Regions from separate parts of the Homo sapiens genome. Here region 1 is linked to region 2. Evidence: fine-mapped expression QTL. A gene starts in region 2. The other region holds a variant in brackets. All regions are shown on one strand. Distances are from middle to middle. Region 1 overlaps LOC124907901 (a long non-coding RNA gene). Region 2 holds the start of DAPL1 (death associated protein like 1).

The links.
Region 1: its variant is fine-mapped to the expression of DAPL1 in esophagus mucosa (GTEx, PIP above 0.99).

Annotation. Positions count from the first base shown.
Region 1 is chr2:158,843,032-158,859,388 of GRCh38, reverse strand. The region is part of intron 2 of LOC124907901 (a long non-coding RNA gene); the gene reads right to left. It also overlaps the pseudogene OR7E89P. Among named protein-coding and RNA genes, the nearest start is that of DAPL1, 56 kb to the right of the region's middle. The variant C/T (reference allele first, on the strand shown) is at 8,775.
Region 2 is chr2:158,788,373-158,804,729 of GRCh38, reverse strand. It overlaps DAPL1 (death associated protein like 1), which reads right to left and starts at 9,413. Exons shown (of 4, transcript NM_001017920.3): 1 at 9,300-9,413; 2 at 361-448. The coding sequence starts at 9,357. RefSeq lists an enhancer at 11,818-11,987.

The DNA of each region.
Region 1 (16,357 bases), 55 kb before region 2:
GCAACCTCACACTGCAGGGCTGGAGGCACAGACTGAGTATTTACTATTCTATGGCCTGGGGGTCTCAAGGCATAGAGCTCCTCATTAGCCAGAGTCGCCCAAGTTCCCCAACCTCTAAGGATTTCCTCATAATCATGCAAGAAGAAGAAGGGAAAAGTCAGTGTCCACAGAAGTTTTGGGGCTCTTCCTCTAATCAGGAGAGAGCTTGTGTGGATTCTTCGCTTCTTTCTTTTCTTTTTCAAGATCCAAGTGCTTTAATTTTCATCTTTTAGTATGGGAAAATATACCACGTATAAATCCTAAAAATTATAAATAGAGATTCTTGCATATAGAATGGCCAGTATGAACATTTACAATTTCCACTAGTTTTCAGTTTAGAGTTTAATCACATTAGGTACATTCACATTGTTTTGCAACCATCACCGCCATCATCTCCAGAACGGTTTTAGCTTTCCAAATGGAAATTGCACCCATTAAGCAAACTCTCCATTCCTCTCTCTCGCCCACCCCTGGGGGCCACCGTTCTATTTTGCAACTCTATGAGTTTAACTACTCTAGACACTTGATAGAAGGGGAATCATACCGTGTTTAATTTTCTTTGTTTCTTTGTTTTGGAGACAGTCTTTCTCTGTCACCCAGGCTGGAGTGCAGCGGCATGGTCTCGGCTGACTGCAACCTCCACATCGTGGGTCCAAGCGATTCTTGTGTCTCAGTCTCCCGTGTAGCTGGGGTTACAGGCGTGCGCCACCACGCCCAGCTAATTTTTGTAGTTTTAATAGAAACGAGGTTTCACCATATTGGCCAGGCTGGTCTCGAACTGCTGACCTGAAGTGATACGCCTGCCTCGGCCTCTCAAAGTGCTGGGTTTACAGGTGCGAGCCACGGAGGCTGGTCGTGTTTATCCTTTTGGGATTTATTTGTTTCACTGGCGATAATGTCTTCAAGGTTCATCCATGTTGCAGCCTGTGTCAGAAGTGCCTGCCTGGCTTTTTCGGTTTTTTATTATTTATTTATTTATTTTTTTGGTTCTGTTTTGTTTTGTGTTTACATGGAGTCTCACTCTGTCACACAGGCTGGAGTGCAGTGGCACAATCTGGGCTCACTGCAACCTCCGCCTCCCGGGTTCCAGCGATTCTTGTGCTCAGCCTCCCGAGTAGCTGGGAGTATAGGCACGCGCCACCACGCTCGTCTAATTTTGTGCATATTCAGTAGAGACAGGGTTTCACCAAGATGGCCAGGCTGGTCTCGAATTCCTGACCTCGGGTGATCCGCCCACCTCGGTCTTCCAAGATGCTGAGATTACAGGCGTGAGCCACGGCACCGGCCAGAAGTGCCTGCATTTTTATGGCTGAATAGTCTTCCGTTGTATGAATGAACTGCACTGTGCTTTTTCATTCATCTGCCCACGAACCCTTGGGTTGCTTCCCCATTTTGGCTGTTTTGAGTAACGCTGCTATGAATATGGGTGTACAAATCTCTCTTCCACTCCTGGCTTCTAATTCTTTTTGGTGGGTACCCACAAGTGCAACTGCGGGAACATCTGATCATTCTGTTTCTACTTTTTCCAGGACAGGCCATACTATTTTCCCCATTCCTTCACGGTTTTACATTCCCTCCAATCAGATTCGAGCATTCCTACTTCCCTCTAGTTTCACCAAGGCTTGTTCGTTTATCATATCCATCCTAATATGTGGTATCACATTCTTGGTTTGATTTGCACTTCCCCATGATTAGTGATTTTGAACATCATTTTAGACGCTTATTGGCCATTGCTCTATCTTCTTTAGGGACACGTCTACTCGAGTCTTCTGACCATTGTTAATGGGGTGCTTTGGGTTTCTTGTTGTTTAGTTCTAGCTCTTCTTTATATATGATGGATATCAGCCTCTTTTCAGAGATATGATTTGCAAATCTTTTTCCTAATCCATGGGTTATCTTTTCACTGAGTTCACAGTGTTTGCTGATGCACGAAAGTGTCTGTCGTTTAGATGTCATCCAAGGAATCCAATTTTCTTTTGTTGCCTATGCTTTTGGTGTCATATCCCAGAAAGCATTGCCCAATCTGATGTCGTGAAAGTGTGGCCAATGTTTTCTTTGAGGCATATTATACTTTCAGCACTGGGGGTGAGGTCTTTGATCCAGTTTGTGTTCATTTTTGCACCTGGTGTGACATAGGGTCCACCTTCCTTCTTCTGCATGTGGAAATCAAGTTTCTCCAACACCATTTCTTGAAAAGGCTGCTTTTCCACCAATGAACTTTCTTAGCACTCCTGTGAAAAATCATTTGAACATATAGGGAAGAAGTTATTTCTGGGCTCGAAAACAAACAAACAACAACAGACAACAGACAAGGATACAGCATGGCCCGGGCGCGGTTGCTCACGCCTGTCATCCCAGCCCTTTGGGAGGCCGAGACGTTCGGATCACCTGAGGTCAGGGGTTCAAGACCAGCCTGACCCACAGGAAGAAACTTCCATCTCTACTACAAATACAACATTAGCTGGGCGTGCTGGGGCATGCCTGTAATCCCAGCTGTTTGGGAGGTGGAGGCAGGACAATCGCTTGAACCCAGGAGGCAGAGGTTGCGGTGAGCCAAGATTGCACCATTACACTCCAGCCTGCGAAACAAGCGCAAAACTCCGTCTCAAAACAAAAAACCAAAAACAAAAAAACCAGCATGATTTCAAGAGCAGAAAGAGAATAGCTGAAAAACCAGCATAAGGAGAAAGTTAGGAAGCTTCTTACCAAAGCATCTGGAAATATGCAAGAAATTCTTGTGAACTAAAATTTTCATACTGTGCTGTCAAACACTAGAACTCACTTATTCCATCTTTCTGTATTTTGGGACCCAATTATCCCCTTCTCTTCATTCCCCATCCCACCCCTTTTCTTCCTAGCGTCTGCTAACCACCTTTAGACTTTCCACCTTCCTGAGATTCCTTTTGTGTGTAGGTGTGTGATGGCATCTCTTTCTGTTGCTCAGGTTGGAGTACACAGGCACAATCCGGGCCCACTGCAACCTCCGCCTCCCGAGTTCAAGCGCTTCTTGGGCCTCGGCCCTCCCAGTAGCTGAGACTACAGGCACGCGTCACCACGCCCGGCTAATTGTTTGTGTTTTCCGTAGAGACGGGGTTTCACCATGTTGGCCAGGCAGGTCTCGAACTCCTGGACTCAAGTGATCCGTGCGACTCGGCCTCCCAAAGTGCTGGGATTACAGGCCTGAGCCACCACACCTGGCCAAGGTTTCCTTTTTTCTTTCTACATAGAAGTGAGGACATGAAATATTTGTCATTCTGTGCCTGGCTTCTTTCATTTAATATACAGACACGCAGTCTCATCCATTTTGTCTGCAGCAGAGAGGATTTTCTTCCTTTTTAGGCTGAATAATACTTCATTGGGTGTGTATACCACAGTTCCTTAACTGAAACAAATTTCTAAAGAGCAAATATTTTTAAAATGTCTCGGAATGTGAAACTTCAGGGATACTGTGCCCATTTTATTCTTTTCTATTTCCCATCTTAGGTATATGCAAGTGTATAACAAAGCAGCAATCAATGTGTGTATAAATCTATAACTTCAACAAATGTAAAATGTAAATGCTAAGTGGTGGCTGGGCGCGGTCGCTCACACATGTAATCCCAGCAATTTGGGAGGCGGAAGCGGGCGGATCACCTGAGGTCGGAAGTTCAAGGCCAGCCTGACCAAAACGGAGAAACACTGTCTCTACTAACAATACAAAAAAAAAGAAATTAGCCGGGCATGGTAGCGCACGCCTGTAATCCCAGCTACTTGGAAGGCTGAGACAGGAGACTTGCTTTAATACGGGAGGCAGAGGATACAGTGAGCCGAGACCTTGCCATTGAACCCCAGCCCTGGCAACAAGAGTGAAACTCTGACTTGAAAAAAAAAAAAAAAAGAAAAGAAAGGAAAAGAAAGAAATAGAAAATGCGAAATGGTAAGAAAAAACAGCATAATAAACATTTGTATGCTGTTGATGGACAACGCATTTGAAGGTAATATATGAGGAAATCATATCACAATTAATTTCTGTTCTTACTCATTGGAGCTTGATGCCTCTGAAAACTTCGTCTTTGGAACCACCTCCGGTGGTTTAAAAGAAAAAAAAAATCCACATACTCACATAGGTGCAAGGAAATCAGAATCTCAGGTATTGAGACCCAGGCCTCACCATTTGTAAGCTCCCCAGGTGATTTGACTCAAAGCCAAGATTGAGGAATGGCGACCTGGATCTCTACACGTAACCTGCCTAAATCGATTCTCTAGAAGCAGTTTATAAAGAAATTCCACATGAACTCTGGAAGAGGATATGAATTTGATTTACAGTATGTCCTCACTTAACATCTTTGAAAGTCTCTTGGAAACTTCACCTTGAAGCAAAATGATGTATAGTGAAACCACTTATTTTTCATCAACAGTATAACTACACAACTTTGAACAACCAGTGGTGTTGGAGGACCTCCTGTACATTGTTTCCATAAAGTCAGTCTTCAGGGAATTCCAAAATGAAGAGAGGACTTCGTGTATATAAAAAGATGGTTGTGATTCCACCTGGATGACAGGGTTATTGCTCAGAAACTAAAAGAGGCCGCCTAGGTATAGAGGATTCTGTCATGAGGTTCCTGCTAAACAGAGGATCCCAGAATACTGACCCATTCCAGTTAAAGGCATAACGAAGAAAGCAATATTCACAAAGGAAATGCAGAAAGGAATAAAAGCCATCAAGCCACAAAAAGAATGTGACTAAGGGGCGGGATTTGCAGATGCAGAGATTTAATGTGGTTGCCCTTTCTCACCCACACAAGAAAAAGGATGGAACAGATCATGAGATTCCACTGTTCTGCTGCGCAGCCTCCGCAGGGCACTTTGTATGTCCCTGTTTCTCAGGCTGTAGATGAAAAGGTTCAGCATGGGGGTGACCACAGCGTACATCACTGACGCCGCCACACCATTCCTGGGGGGTGGTGACAGAGCTGAAGTCAGGTACATGCCAATGCCTGTTCCATCAAATCAGCAAACAACTGCTAGGTGAGAGCCACAGGTGGTGAAGGCTTTATACTTCCCATCTGACGATGACATCCTTAGAATGGAGGGGACAATTTTATACTAAGACAAAAGGATCCCTGAAATGGGAAGAAAACCAAACATAGTACTATCAAAATATATGAATATGCTATTGGTGACGCTGTCAGAACAGGCAAGTTTGAGAAGTTGAGAGGGGTCACAGAGAAAATTAGAGATTTCCACATTCTTGATGATGGTGAATTGTAACACAATCCAACCGTGCAGCTGGGAATCCAACAGGCTAAGGAAAAAGGACACCAAAACGAAGAAGACACAGAGGTGAGGATTCATGATGACTGGGTAGTGCAGAGGGTGACAGATGGCTACAAAGCTGTCATAGGCCATCACAGTCAGGAGCATGTCTTCTATACATGCAAAAAGGACCAAGAAAGACATCTGTGCCAGGCAGCCCGCATGAGAGATGACTCTGCTATGCGACTGCATGTCCACAATCATCTTGGGAACCGTGGGCGAGGTGAAACCGATGTCAGCCCAGCACAGGTTGGAGAGGAAGAAGTACACGGGGGTGTGGAGGGGAGTCAGAGCTGACAGCCAGGATGCTGAGCAGGTTCCTCAGCACCATGACCAGATACATGGACAGGGACAGGGACAGCAAAGCGAGGACCGGCAGCAGTTCTGGATCCTCTGAGAGTCCCAGGAGGAGGAATTCTCAGACACCTGTGAGATTCCGTGGCTCCGTGTGTCTTGGACACCTTGAGAAGGAAAGAGGATTGGAAAAATAAAAGATAAAAACCAGCCCTTAATGCTGGATGCGAGCAACTCACAAGGAACATTTTCACACTTGCGGACCATACACCGCCAGCAATGTTTCTCAGTTGTGACAAATCCAAAAATCTCAGAATTATTACGTGGTTTACTTTTTTGCTATACAAGTCTTTCTGTACATACTACTTTAGAGAAAATCCACTGAAGAATATTAGAAGACCAAATCCGTGATCTCAGTAAAATACGGCCTACTCTTTTCAGAAAAAATACAATGCAGTGAAAATGTCCTTCTCTCTTTAAGAAAAAGATCTCAGTCTAATTGAAAGAAATTAAGAAGCCGTGAAATACACTCTGTTTTATTCTGACACCGTGCTACAAATTCCTTTGACGTAGAATATGTAAAAGGACGACACAAGAGCTAGGACCCCATTATCTAAAAACGAAATCGAACCTTAGAGTTCTCAATCGGAACACCTTTTCACATGCCTGTTACTTTTCATATTTATTATCATCCTTAGGTTTTCTGACATCATTTCTTCATAGAAGTACATGCACACTCAAATATGGGAGCTGTGTTTCCAAATGAATTTAATATATAACTCTTGGCCGAGCGCCATGGCTCACACCTGTAATCCCAGCACTTTGGGCGGCCGAGGCTGATGGATCACCTGAGGTCAGGAGTTCCAGACCAGCCTGGCCAACGTGGTGAAACCCCGTCTCCAGTGAAAATAAAAAAAAATTAGCCGGGCGTGCTGGCGGGTAACCCTAGCTACTCGGGAGGCTGAAGCAGGAGAATCCCTTAGAACCTGGAAGGCAGAGATTGTACACCCTGTGATAGGATTTTTGATATCCTAGGGAGATATTGCTCCTGACAGCAGAGTGAGCGTACACCCTGTGATATTGTTTGTAATATCCTAGAAAGATATTGCTCCTAATATCACGGTGGCTCTACACCCTGTGATATTAATTGTAATATCCTACAGAGATATCACTCCTAATAATACAGTGGGTGTACGACCTGTGATATGATTCATAATATATTACGGAGATACGACTCCTGATATCACAGCGAGTGTACACCATGTTTGCACACCCTGTGATCTTATTTGTAACAACTTAGAAAAATATTACAGCTAATATCAAAGTGGGTGTACACCCTGCGATGTTATTTGTTATCCACTAGGTAGATATTACTCCTAATATCACAGTGAGTGTACACCATGTGTGTACAGACTGTGAAATTATTTGTAATACCCTAGGAGGATATTACTCCTAATATCACAGTGGGTGTACACCCTGTGATAGTATTTGTAATCACCTAGGGAAATACGATTCCTAATATTACAGTGGGTGTACACTCTGCGATGTTATTTGTAATGTCCTAGGAAGATATTACTCCTAATAGCAAAGTGGATGTACACCACGTGTGTACACTCTGTGATATGATTTGTAATATCCCAGAGAGATATTTCTCCTAACATCACAGTGGGTGTCCACTCTGTGATATTATTTGTACTATCCTAGAGAGATATTGCTCCCAGTATCACAGTGGATGTACACCCTGTGATATTATTCATAATATCCTAGAGCGATATTACCTCTAATATCACAGTTTCTGTACACCCTGTGGTATTATTCATCATATCCTAGGGAGTTATTATCCCTAACATCACAGAGCGTGTACACCATGGGTGGACACCCTGTGATGTTATTGGTAATATCCTAGGGGGATATTACCCTTAATGTCACAGTGGGTGTTTACCATGTGTGTACGCACTGAGATGTCACTCGTAATATCCTAGGGAGAAATTACACCTTGTGTTACAGTGGGTGTACACCATGTGTTTCTATTCTGTGATGCTATTTGTAATATCTTAGAAAGTTATTAGTCCCAGTGCCACAGTGGGTGTATACCATGTGTGTCCACTCTGCGATGTTATTCGTATTATCCTAGGGAGACAGTTCTCGTAACATCACTGTCGGTGTACATCATGTATGTACTCCCTGTGGTCTTATTGGTTATGTCCTGGTTTGATATTACACCTAATGTCACCGTGGGTGCACACCATAGGTGTACATTCTGTGATGTTACTCGTAATATCCTAGGGAGATATCACTCCTGTTATCACAGTGGGTGTACACCCTGTGATAGTATTTGTAATATCCTAGGGAGATATCAGTGTATACCCTGTGGAATTATTTGTGACATTTGAGGGAGCTATTTCTCCTAAAGTCGGAGTGGGTGTACACTCTGTAATATTCTTCCTAATATCACAGTGGTTGTACACCGTGAGTGATATTTTTTTCTAATATCCAGCGAGGGAGAGGATGATATTGCTTCCAATATCATGGAAGGTGTACACCCCCTTGTGATATTGTTCCGAATACAGGAAGGAGAGGATGACATTATTCCCAATATCACTGGGGGTGTATCACCTCCTGCCGGGATATTGTTCTTAATATCCGGAGGTGGAGAGAATGATGTTACTCCCAATATCCCAGGGGGTGTACACCACCCCTGTTTGTAAACACCCCCTGTGATATTGTTCCAAATGGCCTGTGAAAGAGTCAATATGACTCCCATTTTCGCAGGGGGTGTTCAGCCCTGATGATATTGTTTTCTAACATCCGGGGAAGGAGAGTGTGCTGTTACTCCCAATATCGCAGGGTTTGTACACCTTTTTGTGTTTTTGGGCCCAATATCCAGGAAAATAGAGGATGATATTACTCCCAATATCGAAGTAATTGTACAGCACCCCTGTGATATTCTTCCTAATATCCAGAAATGAAAAGAATGATATTACTTCCAACAGTGTCAGAAATGTATACCCGCGCTGTGATATCTTTCCCCATATCCAGGTGGGGAGAGGATCATTATTATTTCCAATGTCGCAGGCTGTGTACACCCCCTCTGTGATCCTGTTGCTAACATCCAGGTTTGGGGAGGACGACATTACTCCCAATAT[C/T]ACAGGGGGAGTACAACCCCCGTGACCTTTTAGTCATTTCCTGGGTGGAGAGGATGATATTACTGCCAATATCGCAGGGGGAGTACACACCCTTGTGAAAATCTTCCTAATATCCAGAGGGAGAGAAGATGATATTACTCCCAATACCGCAGGGGGTTTACACAGCCCTGTGATACTCTTCCTAATATCTACAAGGAGAGAGGATGATATTACTCCCAATGTCGCAGGGGGTGTACATAACCCTGTGACATTGTTTTTAATATCTAGAGCAAAAGAGGATGATATGACTCTCAATATCGCAGGGGGTGTACATCCCTCCTGTCCTATTGTTCTGATTACCCTGGGAGGGAGAGGATAATGTTACATTGAATATCGCAGGGAATGTACACCCTCCCCCTCTGATACCCTTCCTAATGTCCAGGGGAAGAGAGGAAAATTTTACTCCCAATATCGCAGAGGCAGTACACCCCACCTGTGATGTTGTTCCCAATATGCAAGGGTGGAGAGGATGATACTATTCCCAATATCGCAGGGCTGTTCACATCCCCAGTGACATTTGTCCTAATACCTAGGGGAGAGACAATTATATGACAGCAAAGTTCGCAGGATCTGTACATCCCTTCCTGATATTGTTCCTAATATCCAGGGGGGAAGAGGATGATATCAAATATGAAAGGGGGTGTACACCCCCCACCCCTACGATATTGTTCTTAATATTCATAAGAGGAGACTATGATATTACTGCAAATATCGCAGGGGTTGTTGACACCCCCCTGTGATATTGTTTCTGATATCCGGGGGGTGGAGAAAATCATATTACTTCCAATATTGCAGGTGGTGTATACCCCACCTGAAATATGGCACGGATTATCCAAAGAGGGAGACGATGGTATTAATACCAGTATCAAAGTGTGTGTACACGCCCCTTGTGATATGGTTTTTAATATCCAGTGGGCGGGAGGATGATATTAGTTCCAACATCCCAGAGGCTGTACACTACCCCTGTGATATTGTCCCTAACTTCCAGAGGGGAGAGGATGATATCACTGCCAATATCTTAGAAGTTGTACATCCCCTGTGATATTGTTCGTCATATCCATGGAGGCACAGGATGACATTCCATTGATTTTCGGGACAGGCGTTCACGCACAATGTAATGTTGTTCCTAATATCCAAGAAGGGAGAGGATGATATTACTCTCAATAAAGCAGTGGGTATACATTACCCCTGTGTTATTGTCTCTAATATCTGGGGCCAGGGGAGTGGGGAGAGGATAACATTCCCTCAAATTTAGCAGATGGTTTGACGCCCCTTGCTTGTGGTGTTGTTTTAAATATCCAGCGGGGAAGACAATAGTACTATTTTTGATAGTCCGATTCATCTGCTCCACCTTTCTGGAACTCTGAGGCCGGGAGGCGGCATGCAGTTTCCGTGTGATCCCCAATACCTTTGCCGTCTTCTGTACCAAGGCAGCCAAAAACGCAGGCCCGTTATCTGAGCCGATCCGTAAGGCCAGTCGAAATCTAGGAATCAGATCTCAAAGAAGCACAGGGGTTACTTCATGAGCTTTCTCAGTTCGTGTTAGATAAGCCTCCACCCAACCAGAGTAGGTACGCCCAAGAACTAGTAAATACTTGTTACCTCCACACTTTGGCATCTCTGTGAAGTCTACCTGGAGATTTTCAAAGGGGGCTGCTCCGTAAGCTTGTATGCCGGGTGGAACGGCTGGACCTTGCCTCGCATTATGCTGTCGGCAGGTAACACACCACTACCTCACCGTTTTGGCAAGGGCTGACAAATGCGAGATGTACAAATACCAGCCTAACAACTTTTCCAGTGACTCCTGATCTACATGGGTGGTTTCATGCACAGCCAGTACAACTGCACCTCCTAGCAAGTGTGGCACAGCTACTCTCCCATCTGGTAACCGAATCCATCCTTCCTGCATCACTTGTCCTTCCCTCTACCTGGAGAAAGTCCTTTTCTTCTTTAGAAGAAGTAGGTCCAAGATCAAGTGCTTGAGGGAGCACTGATGCCCGGAAGGGGGCAGATGCTGCTTTTCGAGCCTCTGAGGCAGCGCGCGAATTCCCCAAACGCAGCAAGGTGGAAGCTCGCTGGTGTCCTCTGCAATGCACAACTGCCACCTTGTGGGGTTTCCATACTGCTTCTAATAATTGCAAGATTTCTTGTTGATATTTTCTGTCTTTTCCCCCAGAGTTCAATAGGCCCTTTTCTTTCTATCACGCTCCATGCACTTGAAGGGTTAAAAAGACATACCAAGAATCAGTGTAAATGTTGACAGTCTCACCCTCACTGAGTTCTAAGGCCCGAATGAAAGCAATGAGTTCAGCTTTCTGGGCTGAAGTGCCCTGGGGCAACGATCTGGCTTCAACAACAGTGTCCAGGGTTACCACGGCACACCCTGCACCTCTCTCTCCTTGGGGGTTGAAGAAGCTGCTCCCATCCACGTATAGTTCCAAGTCTACTGATGCCCAAGGCTGGTCCTGGAAGTCAGGTCTGCTAGAGTCAACTGAGTCCAACACTTCTACACAATCAGGCTCGACAGGGCTCTCTGATACCGGGAGAAGGTGGCAGGGTGTAGGGTGTTACAAACTTCAATGGTTATACGGGGATTTTCACAGAGCAAAGTTTGGTACTTGGTGAGCCTGGCATTCATTAGCCAACGATGTCCTTTAGTATTCATTAAAGTCACCACAGCATGGGAGGCCTTTATGTTCAGGTTTTGCCCAAGAGTCAGCTTATTTGCTTCTTGTCCTAGCAGGGCAGTTGCTGCCAAGGCCCTCAAACAGGGGGGCCATCCTTTAGAAACCCCGTCTAGTTGTTTAGAGAGGTAGGCCACCGGCCTCAGCCAGGGCCCCACAGTTTGGGTTCAAAGTCCAGCTGCCATCTTTTCTCTCTCTGATGCATACAATGGAAAAGGCTTTGGCAGATCAGGTAGCCCCAGGGCTGGAGCTGCCAGAAGTTTTTCCTTTAACTCATGAAAATCTTGCTGTTGTTGGGATCCCCATTCCAAAGTTTCCCAGTCCCCACCCCATTTGTGACCTCATACAAATTCTTGGCTATTACTGCAAAGTTTGGGATCCACAGTCAACAAAACCCCACAGCTCCTAAGAATTCTCTCACCTGCCTTCTGCTCTTAGGCTCCGATAGATTGCAAATGACCTGCTTTCTTTCTGATCCCAGGCTGTGTTCCGACCCGTCGGATAGTAAATCCCAAGTAACGTACCTGCTGTCAGCAGATCTGAGCTTTCTTCTTGGACACCTTATACCCACAGTCCTCCATGGGCTGGTGTAGGGCATCTGTTCCCTTGGCGCACCCCACTGTAGTGGGGTGTCCCAGCAGAAGGTCATCAACCTCGTGGAGCAACATGCAGCCTAGGTCTCTGGTGAGAAACTTCTGGAGGTCTCGAGCCAACGCCTCCCCGAAGATGGTGGGGGAGTTCTTGAACCCTTGGGGAAGCCCGGTCCAAGTGTACTGACTAGTGACACCTGACTCCGGATCATCCCACTGAAAGACAAGCAGCTTCTGCCTCTCATGGGCTAAGCTGATAGGAAAGAAAGCACCTTTCAGGTCCAATCAGGTGAACCAGCTGTCCTCAGCTGGCAGCAACCCCAACAACGTGGACGGGTTAGGTACTGTTGGAATTTGAAAACAGGATATTTAAGCTTTTTTCGCTGACAACCTGAAAGAGCCGCTACTCAGGTTGGCGTGAACTCCATCCCTGGATAATGCAGACCTGCTTCTGTAAACCTCAAGTCTGTATATTACCCACTTTGATGGTGAATAGCCACTGGGGATGAGTTTTTCCATGATCCCAGGGAAAAACTCCATCATCAATTGCTCTGAAGGGCATGACGTTATTATTATCATACTGACCAGAATAATTTATGCTGTAAAATTGCTTTGAAGTGATGTTATAGAGCTCAGAGAAGAGAGGTTTCCTTGTGGGGAATTGTGGATATTTGAAGCTTACCTTGTCTTTTTTTTACTTCTTCCCCATTATAATCACCACCTCAATCTCTTAGATAGGGTCCTCTGAGTAGTATTAACCAGTCTTTGCCACTTTGGGTGCTAATGCTAAATACTTTGCCCTTAAGAATCTCCTGTGACCAGTAAAACATCATCATCTGAATGTGCATTACACAGTTGGTTTCCACAACTCAGTGATTTATAAAGCCTGGATAGTAGTAGTATTTGAATGTACATAAAGGCAACAAAGAACACAGCTTTATGAAGTGCTAGACAGGGTAGAAGAGTGAAGAAGAGCTATAAAACTTCAGGTACAAAGGACTAGGGGAAGTCTGAGTACTCAGGCAGAACATAACTGTAACAAATGGAGCTAAGGGCTTTCCAAAAACTAAAGGTAAAGAGAGAAATCCTCGGTAGAAGGTCTCACCCAGCAGGAGGTCTGCAAAGGAAGAGGCCCCTTGGGCTGAGAAAGCTGTTTAATGTGCAGTTGACAAAGGGCAGGGGAGGTCTCTGGAAATGTTTATGGGAATGCTCCAGAATTTAATCTGACACCACCAGTCCTGTGAGCTTTGTGCTCTGGGCTCCTAATTAGCAAAATAGAGACACGGGGATTGTGTTTGTCTCACTTGAAATGATTCAGTGTTTATCTTGGCTTGATTGGTCCCAAAGTACTCATTTCACAAAGACCTGTGATGCCTCGTGGGAAGACTTGCACTGCTATTTCCTCAAATTCATGTTCCTTTTCACTTGCCCTTCAATGCCAAAATTGAGAACCATAAAAGACTACTCCTTTTGGCCATCTGGCTTTCTGCTGGCATTAACATTCAATAAAACAGACAGACCCAAACCTTTCCTTTCCCATATAGGGTGAATATTAAAGTGTTTTATGAGCAACTGATCAGGTTCTAGTTCAAGAGAGAAGGCTAGATGTATGGCACAGCAAGAAGGGCATGTATCTTGAGGGCACACTTACTGGCTGTGTGACTTTGGGTAAATTGCTTAACTTTTCTGAGCCTTAGTTTCTTGGGGATGATAATAATACCTACTTATTTGTCCACTGTGAACACTTCATCTATAAAATAGGACTTGCCTGCTCTTTACCTCAAAAAAGAAAATCTAAAAAGAAAATCAAAAAAGAAAATCTATGTGTAGATGTGTTGTAAGCAGTGAAATGCTACATGTAGAAGCAAAACAGGTCATTATATTTTCATCAGATTTGAGTCATTCACTCTTCTATGTTCCAAACATTTTAAAATGCTTTTTTAAAGTCAGAAAACAACATGAATGAGAAGTTACCTGTGGGTCCCCAAACCTCCATTTTGAGGGGACTGGAAAATAAAGCAGCAAGGTTAAGAAAGCTTTCAGAATTCATCACAATGAGAACAGAGTCAAAACTGGAGAAAAAAAATGTCTTACACATTCTTCCAGACAAAAGGGCATTTCAAGTATTGTCTTCAAAATTCAGTTTGGAAAGTTATTAGCTTATAAAAGTGAGTTGTATGTACTTGACAATGCTGTGGAAACTCAGACACCCAGAGGTCCTCAGTCATGGAAGAATCAGCTGTAAATGATTTGTTTTGAAATAATTATCTTAATTCTTGACTACAATAGAATGTTAAAATGGAAGTTTCCACTAGGTAACAAGCTGCAATAGATGTGATATTCCAAAGTGAGCCTCTGGGCTGCCATACGCAGAATGAAGAAGTAGTGTCCTGACTTCTGAACTCCCTACCCTAGAGGGGGGTGAGGCCTGTGTGTGGGATGGGGTGGGGTACCACGGAACCAGGGGTCAAGCAGGCATGGCCTTGAGGGTGGATGCATTCTCAGTGATGGGACTCTAAAAACCCACAAAACTTTCCACAAAAGAAAAAGTGGTTTGTGATCAAGCCATCAATAAGAAACTCAGAAACTTCTCTGATTCCGTTTCCCCAGTTTTGCCCACTCAGGTGAGTAAGCAGGGATGAGGGAGTGGGCTAACTTTGAAAGTTCCCTTCCCTCCTGCGGATATTCCCCAACAGCAGCCCTAAACCCCTGGGAGTTTTGGGTTTCACACTGGATCAGGTATTCTAATGGCTGAGTAAAGACCTGCTGGGACCATGAAACAATTACTCCCTGAGGACCTGAGAATGAACGAAGTCATGGGGCTGCCCAGGTTTTCTGGCAGTACCACCTCCCTAGAGATCATTCAGAAATATGTTGGAGTGTGTTTTGATTGACACAATGATTGGCAGGGAGGATACTCTTGGCATTTAGAGGACAAGGGCCTGAGATGCTCGATATCCCAGTAACCCAAGAACTCTCCTGCTTGAAATATTAACAGTGCTCCCAGTTGAGGCCTACACTCATGGAGGCAGGGGCAGGATCACCCCTTCCCTGAACAAGTTTTAAAAAGACAGTGGAACCTATGCCAGGCAGGGAAACCAGAACTGTAATTGATGACCTGCTGGAGGCTCAGTGTGAACAAGTCTGAGAAGAAAACTCCAGAGGGACCCAGTTACTTTTGTGAATTTTACCTGCTGGAGGTCAACCAGGTTCTCAGAGTAAATATCTGAGAAAAATAATAATAATAAAAAAAAAGACAGTGGGAGACAAAAATAGAAATACATTTTCATTATGTTGCCCTTTATGCTTATTCACCATATCTATTACGCTGAGGCTACAAGTATTTTGCAGTGACTTGAGAGCTCTTTCCCACAGCTGCTTAATTACATTCCAGCTGCTTGGATGCATTAGAGCCAGAAGCAGGCCATGAAGTGGGTGAAGGACCTAGCAGAAGGTGCTATGGTGTGCTGCGGTAGCCTGAACCCCTAAAAGCCCTAGCCCAGGTTAAACTTGCTCTGGTGACTGAAGACCAGGATCAGCCCCAGGTTTGAGAAAACCTGGCTGGTCTTGGTGTGGTAGCCTGAACAATGTCTACGTTCTTAGCCCTGAAATCTGTGACTATGTTACCTTCCATGGCAAAAGAGACTTTGCTAACATGATTAAATTAAGATGTTGACATGGCAAGATTATACAGATTGTCCAGTAGGCCTGCTTTATTCACGGGTGTCCTTTGAAGAGGGACAAGGGGATCAAAGTCAGAAGAAGGACACATGATAACAGAAGCAGGAGTTGGAGTGATGCTTGTTGGAAATGGGGGCATGAGGCCAGGGCGGCAGCTCACGCCTGTCATCCCTGCACTTTGGGAGGCTGAGGCGGGCAGATCACCTGAGGTCAGGAGCTTGAGACCAGCCTGGCCAACATGGTGAAACCCCATCTCTACTAAAAATACAAAAATTAGCTGGGCATGGGGATGTGCACCTGTAATCCCAGCTACTCAGGAGGATGAGGTGGGAGAATTGCTTGAACTTGGGAGGTGGAGGTTGCAGTGAGCCAAGATTGCACCACTGCACTCCAGCCTGGGAGACAGAGCAAGACTCTGTCTCAAAAAAAAAAAAAAAAAAAAAAAAGAAAGAAAGAAAAGAAAATGGGGCATGCATGTGGCACTAGAAGCTGGAAAAGGCAGGAAGATAGATCCTCTTCTAGAGCCTCCAGAAAGGAACACAGACCTGCCAACACCTTGATTTTAGCCTGCAAGACCCATTTTGGGCAT
Region 2 (16,357 bases):
CCAGCCTAGGAACAATATTTTAAAGGCTGATCTGAAAATAGGATAAAAGGATGTGTGTCAGGTTTGGATGCATTTAGGCCTGTGCCTATTAAGTGCAAGGCCGCTGGGCTGGATGCAGACAGGAGGAGAATGGGTGGGGGTCGTGATGGGAGCCCTCTCAGAGGGATCCCTCCAGAGGGTAGCCACCTACCTTTCCCCACCCCTCACCCTAAGTCACCACGGATCACGCCCTCCCCCTCCTGCCCCCTTCTCTGGCTGCCTCCAAAGGCATAGGGAGCCTTGGTTTGTCCTAAAATAACTCCTGGAGGCAGAGTCACTCAAAACTCCTCAAGGTGATGGAGAAAAATTAAGAGTCCCTACCTTGTTTTCTCGAATCCTGTTTTTTTGGTATGTCTTTCCAAGGTGCCAATTTCTTGTTTTTTGGAAATTCTCATTCCTCCAGCTTTTACTACAAACAGATAAAAATCAGCATGGAAGTTAGAACAGTGAGAGAAGGCTTGCTTTGTTATTAAAGGTATGACTTTAGATTTGAAAATAATTTTTGAACTTATTTTTTAAAGATCTAAACGTTTGTATAAAACAACACAATAAAAAATATATATATTTTATTGGCAAACCAGGTGTGGGTGGAGGAAGGGCTGAGAGCTACTTGTTTATGCTCAGAGAAGTGGAACCAAGACTGAAAAAGCAGAGGTTACACCTTAGATTTGGGGAGGAGAATAACAACATACTCCCTTAGGCATTTCACTGAAAAACATTTTTTCTTATTATCAAACCAATTACATTCCCCACAATAGCAACCGACAATTACAACGTGACCCTCTGTTTTCCCACCAGATTAAAGTTGTGCGTGGCTTGCATTTTTTTTTCCAACCAAAGCTTTCAAAAGCCAGATTCTGAGAGATGAGCCAAAAGTCAGGGCACACAGTGATAAAAGGCATTTAATTCAACAGAGATGGTTCTGATTCTACCAGATACCCACCTTCCATCCAGACCCCAAAACTCCGGTGTTGGCCAAGCTCAGATGTTCTAATGAGTAATTAAACTGCATTAATAATCCTGCCATTCAAGTGATCAATTAGTGTTAATTAGGCTACAGATGACCTAACAGCAATTCAAGTGTTTAACAATGTCAGATGAAATCAACTTTTGAAAAGGAACAACCCATTTCAAGATAGCAAGTCAAAGCAAATGCTTTTTTTCTGTTCCCAGGAAATTTGCACATCTAAAATCTGACAAGCTCAAATGAGAAAAAGCTAAATGGACATTGATTTGTTTGAGCCTGTTAATTCTTTTTATGAAAATGCCAGATTGGCGATTTTCTAAAACTGTGGTCCAATAAAGTGAAAAATAAAGAAAATGTATTCTATTTTTCTGTGCCCTTGTCAACTGACTTCATCATTGTTCTTTACAATTATTACTTAATTTATTGTCTTGGTTATCTTATCTGCATAAGGCCCAAAATTCAAAAGCCATAAAAAGGTCTGCAGTCTCCCTCCTACAATTATTTTCCAACTTCCTAGATTATCTCCCAAGATACTGCTAATGTTATAAGCTTCCTGTGTCTTCATCCACAGTTATTCTACACATACACTCAGGTTTTATTTTTTATAAAATGGTAGCCTAAGGTACACATTGCTCTACATCTTGTTTATTTTCTTCACTTAATCACATATTTTAGAGAAAGTTCCAAATCTATATTTACATCTACATCTATATCTCTATATATCATCTGTGTGTTTTTCTTTTTAACATCTGCTTTAACATTTTATTGTATGAACATCCTGTGTTTACTTAACCAGTTCCCTAATGTTGGACATTTCATGTGTTTCTAATCTACTGCTATCACAAACAATGCTGCAATGAATATCCTTTTGCTACCAGAAAGAGGTGTCTTGATCCAGAATCCAAAAAAAGGTTCTTGGATCTTGCACAGGAAGAAATTCAAGGCGAGGCACAGAGCTCAGTGAAATAAGCAAGTTTATTAGAAACAATTCCATTACAGAGTAGGGTGTCCTCAGAAAGTGAGTGCACAAACACACTGTTTTTCAGTTTTTCTTATATAGGGGTCTTGTCTATGTAAAGACTAAACTGTGACTACATGCAGGTGAGCAGACAACATGACAAGATTTATTATTCTACTGATGTAAAGAAAACCATCCTTGACGATTTGGTGTGTGAGTACATCAAAGCATAACTGTTACTATCTTGAAAGCATTATCATTATGGGTATTGGCCCATCTGGACTTTCTGTGGTTCTAAGAGTTTGTTCTTGCAGGCATTACCAAGCTGCTTCCTCAGCTGTAAACATCTTAGCATCATGGGGTTGTGACTAGCAAGGAATGTGCCTCGCTCATTCTAAGATGGAGGTGATTTTCAAATGATGTCACTCTGGCTCTTTTAGGTTCTTGCTCTCCTAACAGTTTTAGATACATAATTTTGCACAAATACAAGCATACCTGTTGGGGAAATTCCTAAAAGTGATCTTGTTAGTTCTTAAGAGTATGCGTGTTTGGAATTTTGTTAAATCTTGCCAAATTGCCCTTAGCAGAGGTTGCACCAGTTTAGAATCTCACCAGCCATGATGACAGTTGTTGTTCCTCCATACCCCTGTTAACAACGCGAGCTACAAAGTGTTTGGTTTTGTCAGCCAGTAAGTTACAAAATAGATAAAGGTATATCACTGTTTTAATTCTCATTTCTCATGTTTTATTAAAGGTTGAGCTTGGTTCTGTGTTTTAGAAGCCATTTGCATTTCCTTTTCTGTAAGCTGTTCAAATCTTTTGTCCTTTTCAATTGGATTGCTAGTCTTTTTCCTATCTTTTTCTTACCGATTTATAGGAGCTATTTTTCCATGAGATACATTGCAAATATAAAATATTATATTGTACCAGTTACTGCTTTTTGACTTTATTGATAATGTTTTTGCCAGTCAGAAATTTGCTGTTTTTATATGACCTTGTCAATCTCTTATGGGTTTTGTATCACTAAGATCTGTTGTTTTACTATTCAACCATTCCTGCATTCATGGAATAAACTCCATTTGGTCATTTGAATTACCAAGTTTAAAAAATATTGATTTTTGTATATAAGCCTCAGAAAATGCTATCTTTATACATTATCTGCTTTAAATTATATATATATATGCACATTCTTTATATACATAAATTATTTATACACACGCATATGGCATACAAAGTAATCTGCAACAAAAATGAAATTATAGGGAAACATTTCTGAATAGCCATGGAATACAGGTGAAATAAATCAAGGGATGGGCTTTTTCCCAAAGAATGTTTGAGGCGTGTGTGCCTCTGTATGGGAGATGGTGACTGCTCATAGCACTGTTGCTTAATGCTAAGAAGAATCAGATAAGAGCTCTGGGGCCTTTGATACACCTCCCAACAGTATTTTTCATTCTCCTTATGACAAGTGCCTTTCATATATAGTGTGCTGTAATTATTTTCTTGTTAGTGTTCCTTTTGCTTTCCCTGATGCTATTATTCCTACACATTTTCTTCTACCTGGATTAATTATTATTACCAACTATAGAAGCAAAATTGTTTTAGTTAAAGATGAGAAGAACTGGCTGGGCGCGATGGCTCACACCTGTAATCCCAGCACTTTGGGAGGCCGAGGCAGGTGGATCACCTGAGGTCAGGAGTTCAAGACCAGCCTGACCAACAGGGCGAAATCCCATCTCTACTAAAAATACAAAAATTAGCTGGGTGTGGTGGCGATTGCCGGTAGTCCCAGCCACTATTTGGGAGGCTGAGACAGGAGAATTGCTTGAACCTGGGAGGCAGAGGTTGCAGGGAGCTGAGATTGCACCACTGCTCTCCAGCCTGGGTGACAGAGTGAGATTCTGTCTAAAAAAAAGAAAAGAAGATCTTTGGAATGCTGAGTTCTGTACCACTCATTTGGAAGGACATTGATAATCTGGGAATCTTCAGAGGAGAGTGACCAGAGTGAAGGCAGGCATGCTACATGAGGAACTAGGGAATCTAGTAAGATAACTCCTGAAGAAGCAAAGCGAGAGAACTTAGGGAGCCATCTTCAAAGATCTGAAGGGCTGTCATGAGGGCAGAGGAGCAGTTTACTGGTGAGGAAATGTTATGTAGGGTTGGACAACTCTATTCCTCCTAAGCTCTGTGACTGTGAGTAGGACACTTAAAACTGCTCTCAGACTGTCTCCACGTCCTTCAATGGGGAATAATACTGACTATTGCTGTCAGAAAATAGAGGTGACATAAGAACCTGGTGCATGGTAGGCACTTACTAATTACTAATTATTATTTATATTTATTTTATGTGGTTCCAGAGGTGAGAACGAAGACCAAAGACTAAGAGTTCTAGAAAGGTACAGTCTGGCTACTTGTAACAGCTTGTCTTATTCAACATGATATAGATTGCCTAATACAATAACGAGTTTTTTGTACCTCAGTGTATTAAAGTAAAGGAAAGAAGTTCTTTTGTCATGAATACCTTAGGAGAACTTTGGGGAATTCAGTGGAAGTTGAACTAGATTATGTTTATTATAAAGTCCTTATTATAATTTCAACTCTTTTCATCTACCTCTCAAAAAAATCCATCACTTCTTTCTCTTTGGAAAGAGCATAAGGCATTTAACAAAGAAATAAATGCCAAATTTTTTTTTTTTTTTTTTTGAGATGGAGTCTCGCTCTGTCGCCAGGCTGGAGTGCCATGGAGCGATCTCGGCTCACTGCAACCTCTGCCTCCCGAGTTCAAGTGATTCTCCTGCCTCAGCCTCCCGAGTAGCTGGGACTACAGGTGCCCGCCACCACACCCAGCTAAACCATAAACATGGGAATTCCTCATCCTTAGGAACAATAAGATAGACATTTTAGGGGGAAGAAGAAAAAGTCCTCCCCATAAAGATTCCTACTTCCATCCAGCAGTCTTTAAATCGTCTCTGTCATAGGGCTGTAGGCTCTAACTCAGCAATTTCGGAAGCATAAGGGAAACACACATTGGATTTCCAGAACAGAGTTCTTGTACCAAACTTGTTCTGGTAGCTGATCTTACTCAGTCATCTATGTACAGTAGAAAGAAGCGGAAGATAATATCCCTAGACTACAGATGGATGCACTGATATAGATTTGGGCTGTCACTACACTGGGGTGACTGAACCAGGTGGGGTCAGTTTGTGGGAGGGTTATCTTAAAATCTCTGCTGGGAACACTGATCACAATGATCTCCTGGGGTCTAGACAAGCCATTATTTACAATGCAACACAATCAGGTTCTTGCTCATTTTGCTTATACTAGATACCTCTGACTCAAGAGACCTTTTCAAAGTTTCACTGTATCCAAATCGATCCATTTAAGTTTGTAATCCTTTACGTAACTCCATGTTTGGGACTATCCTGCTTTTTGAACCTTTGCAGAAAGATCAATTGGAATTGGGCAAAGTAAAATATGAACTGATTTAACATTTTAACAGGATGTTGAGTACAAATATGTAAATTAAGACTTTCAGTCCTTTCAATAATGAAGATGAACTAGAGATAGACAATGTAAAAAAGGGAGATGCTCTTTTAGATAATTTCACTAGAAAACCTAAATTTAAGCGGGGAAAATGAAGCTTTGCTTTCCCATCTCTGCATGAGAATTATACTCTTGTGACTGCTTTTGTAGTTTATAAATTTTTAAAAATACATCAGTTAGTTTAGAATTCTAAATAATAATTTTCCAGCTAAGATTTTCCAATCTTTTTCACAGTTTTTGGTAGAGAGTAGTGAAGATAAACATAAGCCTGCAAAAAAATTAGGCTTTTTCCTTCACAAATCCATGGACAATGTATGTGAAAAAGCTGAAAGGCACAAAGGTTTGTGCAAACTCTGCCTTGTGAATGAGAACATCTATTTGAAGGTTTAATGAAAAGTTTAGATGTTTGCAAAATGCTCACTTTGCATTCACAGTTAATTTATCAGGAAATTTTAGGCTGCCAATCAAGACCCCCAAAACCCTCATCAAGAGAAGGTTGTGGAGCAAACAGAAAAGGCTTTAGAGTAAGAGGGCTTTGACATGAGGTCAGCTTCATTTTCCAATTCCAGCTCCACTTCCCACTAGCTGTGTGGCTTTCGGCAAGTCCCTCAATCTCACTGAGTCTCCGTTCACTCTTCCGTGAAACATCACCCATCTGCAGGGCTGTTGCCACGTCTAGAAGTCTCTTTGCTGTGCCAGGTGCAGTCAGCATTGAGCGAATGGCAGCTGTTCTTGCAGTCCTCAAATCCCTGTCCCCTGGGGCAGGAGGAGGTGAATCTCACAGCCTCTCTCTTCTAACTTCATGGTTCTGTCCTGTTCCAATGCCCCCAAGTTGACTTGAGCAGATGGAATTGAGAGATTCAAGCCTTTGGAGTGTGTGAGGGTTTTCAAATGACCGTGGTCCATATGCAGTTTATGGTTGTCCCCCATTTTCTGCATTAGTTTTACAATTGGTCATACTCCCCCTCCAACTTCCTTCTCTCTTTAATGAGTCAGAAAACATATTCTCTTTAGGGATTCAGTGGCAACACCTCTAATGGCTCTGATTCATTTGGCTTAGACCCAATTAAAAAGTGCAGGAAATATAGAAAAAGTCATGAACCACTGCTCTTCTTTCTATTCATCATATATCTGGCTTCCTGGGGTCAACTTCTACTCACACATTTTTGGTGCTGCTGTTCATATAATGGGGTTCTTCTGAAAGTGAGGGTGAGACAAATCAAAAAAGCAGAAAATTCCAAGTTCTTCTTACTGGAGCCCAGGCCACCTTGTGTTTTATGTAGTCTCATTTCACAGCATAAATGTATAACTAGGGCTATCAGAGATGCAATATATTATATTAATATACATTAAAGTGAAACCATTGACTGCTCCATAGATAGGTAGGAAAGAGATGCAGCAGGCTGACTTCTAAGTGATTTTTTTTTTTTTCAGACGGGGTCTCACTCTTGTTGCCCAGGCTGGAGTGCAGTGGCGTGATCTCTGCTCACCGCAATCTCTGCCTCCTGGGTTCAAGCGATTCTTCTGCCTCAGCCTCCCAAGTAGCTGGGATTACAGGCACATGCCCCACGCCCGGCTAATTTTTGTATTTTTAATAGAGATGGAGTTTCACCATGTTGGCCAGGCTGGTCTTGAACTCCTGACCTCAGGTGATCCACCCACCTCGGCCTCCCAAAGTGCTGGGATTACAGGCGTGAGCTACTGTACCCAGCTGAGTGATTTCATTTTTAACTGTGATGGGATAGGCACATATTTTTTCCATTGCAGTTTCTTTCTGTTCCAACTACTGCAGTAGTGTCTAATGCCGCTCCAGCATCAGGATGTCTTGAAATTGGGGAGGATAATTTCTTTTGATAGTGATGTGTTCTACCGGGCCTGCATTTTAAGGGGGCTAACATTCAGGTGCCAGATACTTTACAGAGGTGATCTCTTTTAATCATTACAACAAACTTACTAGATAGATGTTATTTATTGCATCCTGTTTCAGAGATGAGGAAACTCAGGCTCGAAGATGTGAAATGAAGTTGAGGTTCAAACCCAGGTCTGTCTGATTCCAAAGGCTATGTATGTCCCACCCTCCCCACCGAATCGTATCTTCTTCCCACTTTTAGGGATCTGTATTTTGCTTATAAAAATCAAGTGAAAAATTAACAGAATTTTGGCACTTGTTTTTGTTCCATAAATAAAATTTTGCACCACCACAAACAGATTCAGACTTAAAATTAGTGGCAAGACAGGCTGAAGGATGACACTTCTTTGTTCCCTTGTGCTCAGTGGGGAGGCAAAAGTCTGCCTTCATCTCCATTCTAATTATCCAAAACCTCTTATCTGTAGTGTCACAGTTCATAATAATTAATTGTCATGCCAGAGGCATTGTGACATGCTTGATGGAGTCATGGTGTGCTATGTACACAGAGTAATTAGCAATCATTAGTGGTGGGGACAGAAAGTTCCCGGTGGTTTCATTCGAACTTTCATTTGGTTAAGTTTATGTCTGTGTTCTTTGTGCATAAATGTAGTTTAGCAAAACAGGTTTCATCTTAGCCATTTTATGAAGGGTTGGAGTGGAAACAACATAATGAGAATGGAGTTCTTTTTTCTTTTGTCTTTGTCTATGTAAGGAGCCTGTCTTCCAATGATTTGCATATATACTTCCTGACTATTAGCTAGCATAATTAACTTTAAATATAGGTAATGTTAAATATTGCTAAATTTGATTACAAATATAAAACATCAGTAATCTACCAGAGGAGATCAGACCAAGATGTCTAGAGCTGGAAACTCAGAATGAGTAGTAAAATCTGGACTCTTTTTGGCCAGGCTACCCGCCGGAAAGCCACCAAAACAATGTTACATTTTGACTCTCTGTGAAGACAATACCCGCCATCACCCTCTGCAGCAAAGATTATTGAAATAACCTTGGCCTAGAGGTGCCAGAGAATTAGACAGTAAATATGTTTTTGTAAATGGAGAAAGGCAAGAACAAAGCAGTCAAGCTTTTGAGTTCTTTCTTCAGTAAAAAAGAAGGAAGGCAGTTGGAAGAATATAAAACTGACTAAAAATAGGCCTGTACACCTCAGCCAATCTATATGAACATATGGTTAAGTACAATAAAACTAATTTCCATATTCCAGAGAGTCAATATAGATAGCATAAATTAAAAAAAAAGACAACTATGGATGCTTTGCAAACACCTTGACAGCTACTTTTTCCAGTCAGCCTCCTCAAGTCCTGTGTCTTTATTTAAAAGTACTTCTCAGCTTGTTGACAGGTAAATACATCCCCAAAGCCTGAGGAGGGAGAAAGAAATGTGATTGTTGTCCTCTGTGCAGAAGCTGCTTTGCCTGGGTAGGAAGTCACATGATGCACAGGCATCTTGGGGAGACTGAGTCTTACAGCTGGAACCTCTAAAGAGAAAGGTTTCCATGGTAGCAAATCATCTTCCTGGTGTAGATGTGTCACTGCTAATCTACAGCCAGGGCCCCGTGAAAGGAATGCTGCCTCGAGGGAGGAAAGGTGCAACCTCTCTACCTATGCCTTTCCACAAGCCCCAAATCCATACACTGCCGTAGGTAATTAGGTTTTAACTCACTGGGGGTCTGACAAATCCCCGGGTGGATTTACATACAAGCTAAGAAGGATCAAAGACATAAGAGGAAGTCAGGCTGCATGGAGTTAAAGTCATACTGGGTAGACAGAGAAGCTTCCGTCTGTCGGGGTGCTCCATGGAAGGCATTGGTGGAAGAGGGGAGCAGCAACAGCCTGCAGGACTGAGGGCAGGTGGCAGCCTACCTGCAGGAGGATGTCCCCCTTTCCGAGGGGAGAGCAGGTCTTGCACTTCATTTGCCATAGCGTGTGCCAGTGCCAGTGCCAGTGCTGGTGCTCTGGAGGCTGAATGCCAGCTGTGGCTGCCCCACCACCGCACCGGCTTTATAAAGGCAGGGGGCAGGGCCCCTTAAGGGCATTGCTGAGCAGCAACAGGGCTTGTCATCCAGCTCTCTGGGAAACCTGCATCTCCTTGGCAAGTTTTCTCTTAGAAGAAGACTTTCTTCTTCCCTTCATCTGGGAAGGCAAGGTAGATGTCTGCAGGAGACAGGATATTCTTTTCTTTCTTTTTTTTCCACAGGAGGAAAGGGAGAGGATGGAGTTCAGTGGAATTCTTTTTCTCTCCAACCGTTGATCCCTCAAGTGTGTATAGTGCACCTGCAATGTAACAGGCTTTTGTCATATTCTGGCATGACAAGGGGGCCAAGACAAGCTCTTTGCTTCAGGACATCTGTAGTCTTTCTAAAGAGACAGGTATAGAGCAAAGTCCTGTGCCTCTGTCCCAGTTTTTGCAATTATAAGCATTTATACTAAGAAAATAATTGGAAATGTATACAGAGATTTCTGCGCAAGGATGGGAATCATATGCTTCTTTTCTTTTTAAAATATTGATGGGAATCAAGATAAACATCTCCAAATACAGAGGGATAGTTAAGATGAATCAAGAAATCACTGTGAGAGTATACCTTACAATCATGTTTTCAAATAATATTTAATGATGTAGAAATATTAACGATAAGATAGTGAAAAAGTAGACAAGAAACCAATCAATGCCAATTTTGCTAAAAAGGAAAAATACAACTTTAAGCTTAGCCATTATTGTAATTCCAGCGCCAATAAAAGTTTAGCATGTGGCAGATATTTATAAAAATTTCTTTGTTCTTCAGTACAGTTAAAAAACAACTTGAAGAGCAGTTGTCTGCTCTTCGAAAAACCCTGTTAAGAAAATAAAAACAAGCTACAAACTGGGAGAAAATATCTGTAAAATGCATTTCTGATGAAGTACCGACATTTAGAATGTATAAAGAATTCTTACAACTCAATAATAAGAAAGCAGACAACCCAATTAAAAATGGGCAAAAGATTCAAATAAAACATTACAAAGTAAGGATATTGACAACACATAATCACACAAAAAGATGCTCGACATCATTAGTCATTAGGGAAATGCAAATTAAAGCCACAATAAAATACCACTACATATGTATTAGGATGGCTCAAGACAAGAAAAAAAAGGAAAATACAAAATGCTGGTGAAGACGCAGAGCAACTGAAACTCTCATACATTGCTGGGGGAAACGCAAAAAAGCAAAGGTGTTCTGGAAGTCAGTTTGACAGTTTCTTATAAAATTCAACATACACTTACTATATATGACTAACAATCCAATTGCTAGGAATTCTCCCAAGAGTGATGAAAACATATGTACACACAAAACCCTATGTGCAAATGTTTATAACAGCTCTATCAGGATTGCCAAAAGTTAGAAACAACTCCGAAGTTCAACTGTAGAATGGGTAAACAGATTGTGGTGTATCTATATCATAGAATATAACTCAGCAATAAAAAGGGAAACATGGATGAATCTCAAAAGCAACACGTTAAATGGAAGAACCCAGACTAAAAAAAGCTACTTCCTATATAATTCCATGTACATGACATTCTTGAACAGTTGAAACCCTAGGAACAGAAATTGGATCAGTGATTGCTGGAGAGCGGTTGGGGAGAGTGGCTTAATTACAAAGGTGAGGAGGTGACTTTTTGAGGGTGATGGAAATAATTTGTATCTTGATTGTAGTGGTTGTTACATTCATCATACGTCATACACACATCACCTTAAAAGGGTGAATTTTACCATATGCAAAATATGCCTCAACAAATGACAAAAAATCTGTTTGTAAATAAATGAATGTAAATACTCCAAAATGTTAAGAGTGGCATTCTGTAGGTGGGAGTATTACATGTGGATTTTTAAATCTTCTTTCAGTATTCTGTATTACTTTTTAAATAAATAAAAACTAATAAAAGTTTTTTTTGAGGGAAAAGTATGGTAAAGTGTTGCGACAAAGGTTGGCACATTTTTGGGAGCAAAGAGGAAACATTCATATCATCTAGCAGTTATTTTGTGAGTGGCCTTTCCTGCAGGGCCCTGGACTAGGAGCTGGGGTTCAGAGATGAGAAAATCTCATTCTTGCTTTCAGCGATCTCACATTCTCATGCGGATATGGACATGATGAGAAGGTTAACAGAATTCCTTCTATGATTGACAAGGTTTATTGTGGCATTATTCCTCAGAAATTTCTGAGAAGATGGAAATGTTTGTATCTGCTCTGACCAGTGTTGTAGCCACAAGCCACACATTCATTTGAGCACTTGAAATGTGGCTGGTGCAACTGAAAAATTGAATTTTTAATTTATTTAAAATTAAATAGTTTTAATTAATAGAAATAGGAATAGCTACATGTGGCATGTGACTCTGGTATTGGACAGCATAGGTAGGTAGCATAAAGCCTAGATGTGTGACTGTTTGGTACCAGATTTTATTGGTTATCTTCTATATCTATAAGCTGCGAAAGTGCAAAAGGCAAGGAGGAAATCAAAGGGCAACCACCCCTTAGGAGAGCCTGCACCTAGGACAGCCTAAGTGATGTGGAGGAATGAGTGGTTGGACCAGAATATAATGCATGCCCAAGCAGAGAAGGCTTCTTTGGGGCAAATACTCGATTTATCCATGAAGTAATGTTAAACAGGATTTCTTTTCACATCATTCGCATGTAAAGCCTTCAGTTCACAGATGTACATTGTGACCCTCCCCAGGGGGATTTAGTAGGCAGCATCCGCAGAGCATTTTTCATCATGAAAACGTTCGTTCTCATGGCCCTAAAAAAAACCCTTAGAGGGCCAGGATTGGTGGTGCACGCCTGTAATCCCAGCACTTTGGGCAGCTGAGGCCAGCCTATTGCTTGAGCCCAGAAGTTAAGAGACCAGCCTCCTGGGCAACATGGAGAAACCCCATCTCTAAAAAAAATATAATACAAAAATTAGCCAGGAGTGGTGGCACACGCTTCTGGTCCCAGCTACTTGGGAGGCTGGGGTGGGAGGATTGCTTGAGCCCAGGAGGTCAAGGCTGCAGTGAGCCAAGATCATGCCTCTGCATTCCAGCCTGGGCGATAGACTGAGAGCCTGTCTCAAAAACAGAAACCAACCAACAAAAACCCCCTAGAATTTGTGTTCTTGGCTTGGTGGGGTGTTGTGCACCTGGAGTCCCAGCTACTTGGGGAAGCTGAGTTGGGAGTATTGCTTGAGCCCAGGAATTCAACGGCAACATAGCAAGGCCTATCTCAAAATAAATAAATAAGAAAGAAAGAGAGAAAGGAAGGAAGGAAGGAAGAGAGAGAGAGAGAGAGAGAGAGAAAGAAAGAAAGAAAGAAAGAAAGAGAGAAAGAAAGAAAGAGAGAAAGAAAGAAAGAGAGAAAGAAAGAAAGAAAGAAAGAAAGAAAGAAAGAAAGAAAGAAAGAAAGAAAGAAAAAGAAAGAAAGAAAGAAGGAAAGAAAGAAGGGAGGAAAGAATTTGTGCTCTTGAAATCCAAGTTGGAAAATTCTGATCTAAGGGAACGGGAGTAGTGGTATCCACAGGGTGATGGTAAAAGGTAAGTGGCAAAAGCAAAAATGAGGCCAATGTGGCCTCCTCTGGGCCCCGCCCAGCACAGCCTTCCTGCCCTGCCACTCTTTCTGCTTCCACTGGAGGAGGCCCAGGGTCCCAACTCTGTCTCCCTCTGTGTGTGCTTAGGAGCACAGGGCAGCCCCAAAGTGGGGTGGGGTCTTCCCTTGCCTTCTCTTTATGTTCGTCATGAAAAGCCCAGGCCTGTTTTGTACACTGTGAGGTAAGTGGAGCCCAAGTGATTTACTCTGGGGACATACTGGAGCTTCCATCAGGGTGAAAGTCTCATGGAAAGAAGACAACATGTTATTACTCTTTAAATGGGCTTATAAAGCTCACTTTAAAAATGGCATCAGTCGAGTTAACTGCAACAGGAGAGCAGTTCATGCTAGGACCAAAGTATTTGAAATTGTGCTTTGTAATGCAAAAAGCCTAGTAAAATGGATTCTCACGACGTTGAGGTTGCCAGAGAGCTTTCTGTCTTAAAATGAAAGGATGCTTTAACATTAATCATATTTTAAAATCATACAACACTTTCATCGTAGTATTGCACTTTCTTCTTTTAATTTGTATGTGGGAGACATTACCTTCCTCATGCACCTGTATATTTGCAGGGTGCATCTAATTTTTATATTTTCTTTTTTCTCTTAACATTAGTTACATGCTGTACCTTATGCTAAGTTCTGAAAGTATGAGAAATCTATGTTAGAAATCAGGGGCAAGAAAGCTAACTGGGAGGGTGGTGACTCTTAGGTGGTGGGGTGGTGTCTTAATTTGTTTTCTATTGCTTACAACAGAATACCTGAAACTTGGTAATTTATAAAAATAAGCAGCTGGGCATGGTGGCTCATGCCTGTAATCCCAGTACATTGGGAGGTCAAGGCTGGAGGATTGCTTGAGTCTAGGAGTTTGAGACCAGCCTGTGCAATGTGACAAAACCCTATCTCTACAAAACATGCAAAAATTTAGCCAGGTGTGGTGGCGCATGCCTGTAGCCCCAGGTACTCAGGAGGCTGGGGCAGGAGGATCACTAGGCAGAGGTTGCAGAGAGCCAAGATCTCGCCACTGCCTGAGGGATAGAGTGAGACCCTGTATCAAAACAAGAACAAACAAACAAAAAACAGTATTCAGTTATGGAGGCTAAGAAGTCGAAGGTGGAGGGCATGCATCTGCTGAGAGCCTTATTGCTGGTGGGGTCCCACTCTCTGCTGAGTCCCAAGGCGGCACAGAGCTAACCTGCTCACTCGGGGTTTCTCCTCCACTTCTTTTTAGAGTCTCACTCTATCACCCAGACTGCAGTGCATTGGCATGATCTTGGCTCACTGCAACCTCTGCCTCCTAGGTTCAAGCAGTTTCTCCTGGCTCAGCCTCCCAAGTAGCTGAGATGACAGGCATGTGCCACCATGCCTGGCTAACTTTTGTATTTTTAGTAGAGATGGGGTTTCACCATATTGGCCAGGCTGGTCTCGAACTCCTCAAACTCCTGACCTCAGATGATCTGCCCACCTTGGCCCTCCCAAAGTGCTGGGATTACAGGTGTGAGCCACCATGCCCAGCCTCTCCTCCACTTCTTATAAAGCCACCAGCTCCCCTCCCAGGATAACCATTAACCCTTTTTTTGAGACAGGGTCTCGCTCTATTCCCCAGGCTGGAGTGCAGTGGCTGTATTATGGCTCACTGTAGCCTCAAACTCCTGGGCTCAAGTGATCTTCCTGCCTCAGCCTCTCGAGTAGCTGGGATTACAGGTGTGCACCACCACACCTGGCTAATTTTTATCATTTTTGTAAAGACGGGTTTCACCGTGTTGGTCAGGTTGGTTTCGAACTCCTGGGCTCAAGCCTTGGTCTCTCAAGTAGCGCAGGCTACATATGTGTGCCACCATGCCCAGATAATCTTTAAAAAATTTTTAGTAGAGATGAGGTCTCTCTATGTTGGCCAGGCTGGTCTTAAATTCCTGAGTTCAAGTGATCATCCCTCTTCATCCTCCCAAAGTGTTAAGATTACAGGCTGCACCTGGCCCCATTAACCTATCAATCCATGAATGGATCAATCTGTTCAGAAGAGCAGAGCCCTATGGTCACCTCTTAAAGTCTTCACCTCTCCATACTGGCATATTGACGATTCAGTTTCAACATGAGTTTTGGAGGAGACATTCAAACCATAGCAGGTGGTTTAGAGAAAGCCCTCTCCAAAGCATCTTGCCTCCTGTTTTGTAAGATGTCTCTGAGCTTCCAGTGCCTGTCTAGACATTTTAACTCCAGTTTCTCCCTGTAGTCTATATCCATGTGTTTAGGTGCTTTGCTTTCTCTTTAGATTTCATTCAGTATTTTCTCTGTTGTTTCTCCATTATATGTTTTCTAGGTGGGGTGTGTTGGGGGGTGCGGTATTATGGGAGTTACATTATGGAGAAAACTGTGCTTACCAGCTTTTTTGGTCTGTTTTTTAGATATAGTGTGTCTTTCTCTTCCCTCTCTCCAAAACACTGGGATTTTCCTTTCATCCGAGGACATTTTTAATTCCTAGTATTCTTTAGCAGAAAGCACTCATTGTTTTCTCTCTCCATTTGCTGGACCTGAAACAAAGAATCCATTAATAATTTGGAGAGGTGTGTAAGGATCTTTCTTCCGAGTTATCATGCAGATAGACACTTTTATGTATAGGGATTCCCCCAGCAACAAAACAATCACAATTCTGTGTGCAGGAATATAGAAACACAGTTTAGAAGTTAGCCAATCTTGATAACAAGGTAAACAATGAAGAGTACATTTTTTCTTGCCTTGGGGTCTTGAAGTTTTAGTGGTGAGTGTTGGAGCCAAGAGGCAAATAAACTTAATTGGAAGATAATAATAGTTCACTTTACTTTTAGAAATACACTCGAGATTAGTTAAAACACAAATTTCTGCAATTCCCTACCTTCCACATCTTCTATAAAGCCAAAATTTACTGACCCCATTTTACAGGTGGGAAAAGGCCATAAAAGGAAACAAAGAGAGGTAAATTAGTCGTAAAACATAACAAGATGGCAGTGGAAAGATCAGAAGCTGCTACTGATCCATTGTCGGCCCAGTCTTTATTATTGTCCAGCAGCTTGAAACCCGCATTGGGCATCTGAAAAGTCATGCCAGGAAGCTGTATAATGCACCACTAATAAAACAGCTAAAGGACAGCATACTGTCTGAGCAGCGGATGCTAGTAAGTTATCTGTTACAGGGTTTTGTACCCTTTCCATGGGTTGAGATGTTTCAGGTATCAAAGATTCTGAAATGAATTCCAACCATAGCCAGACTAGGCCATGGGAAAGACATACCTGGAAAGAGGGCCAGCCTTTTGTGGGCCAAGATGTGACTTTTTTGGACCAGTGTTTACT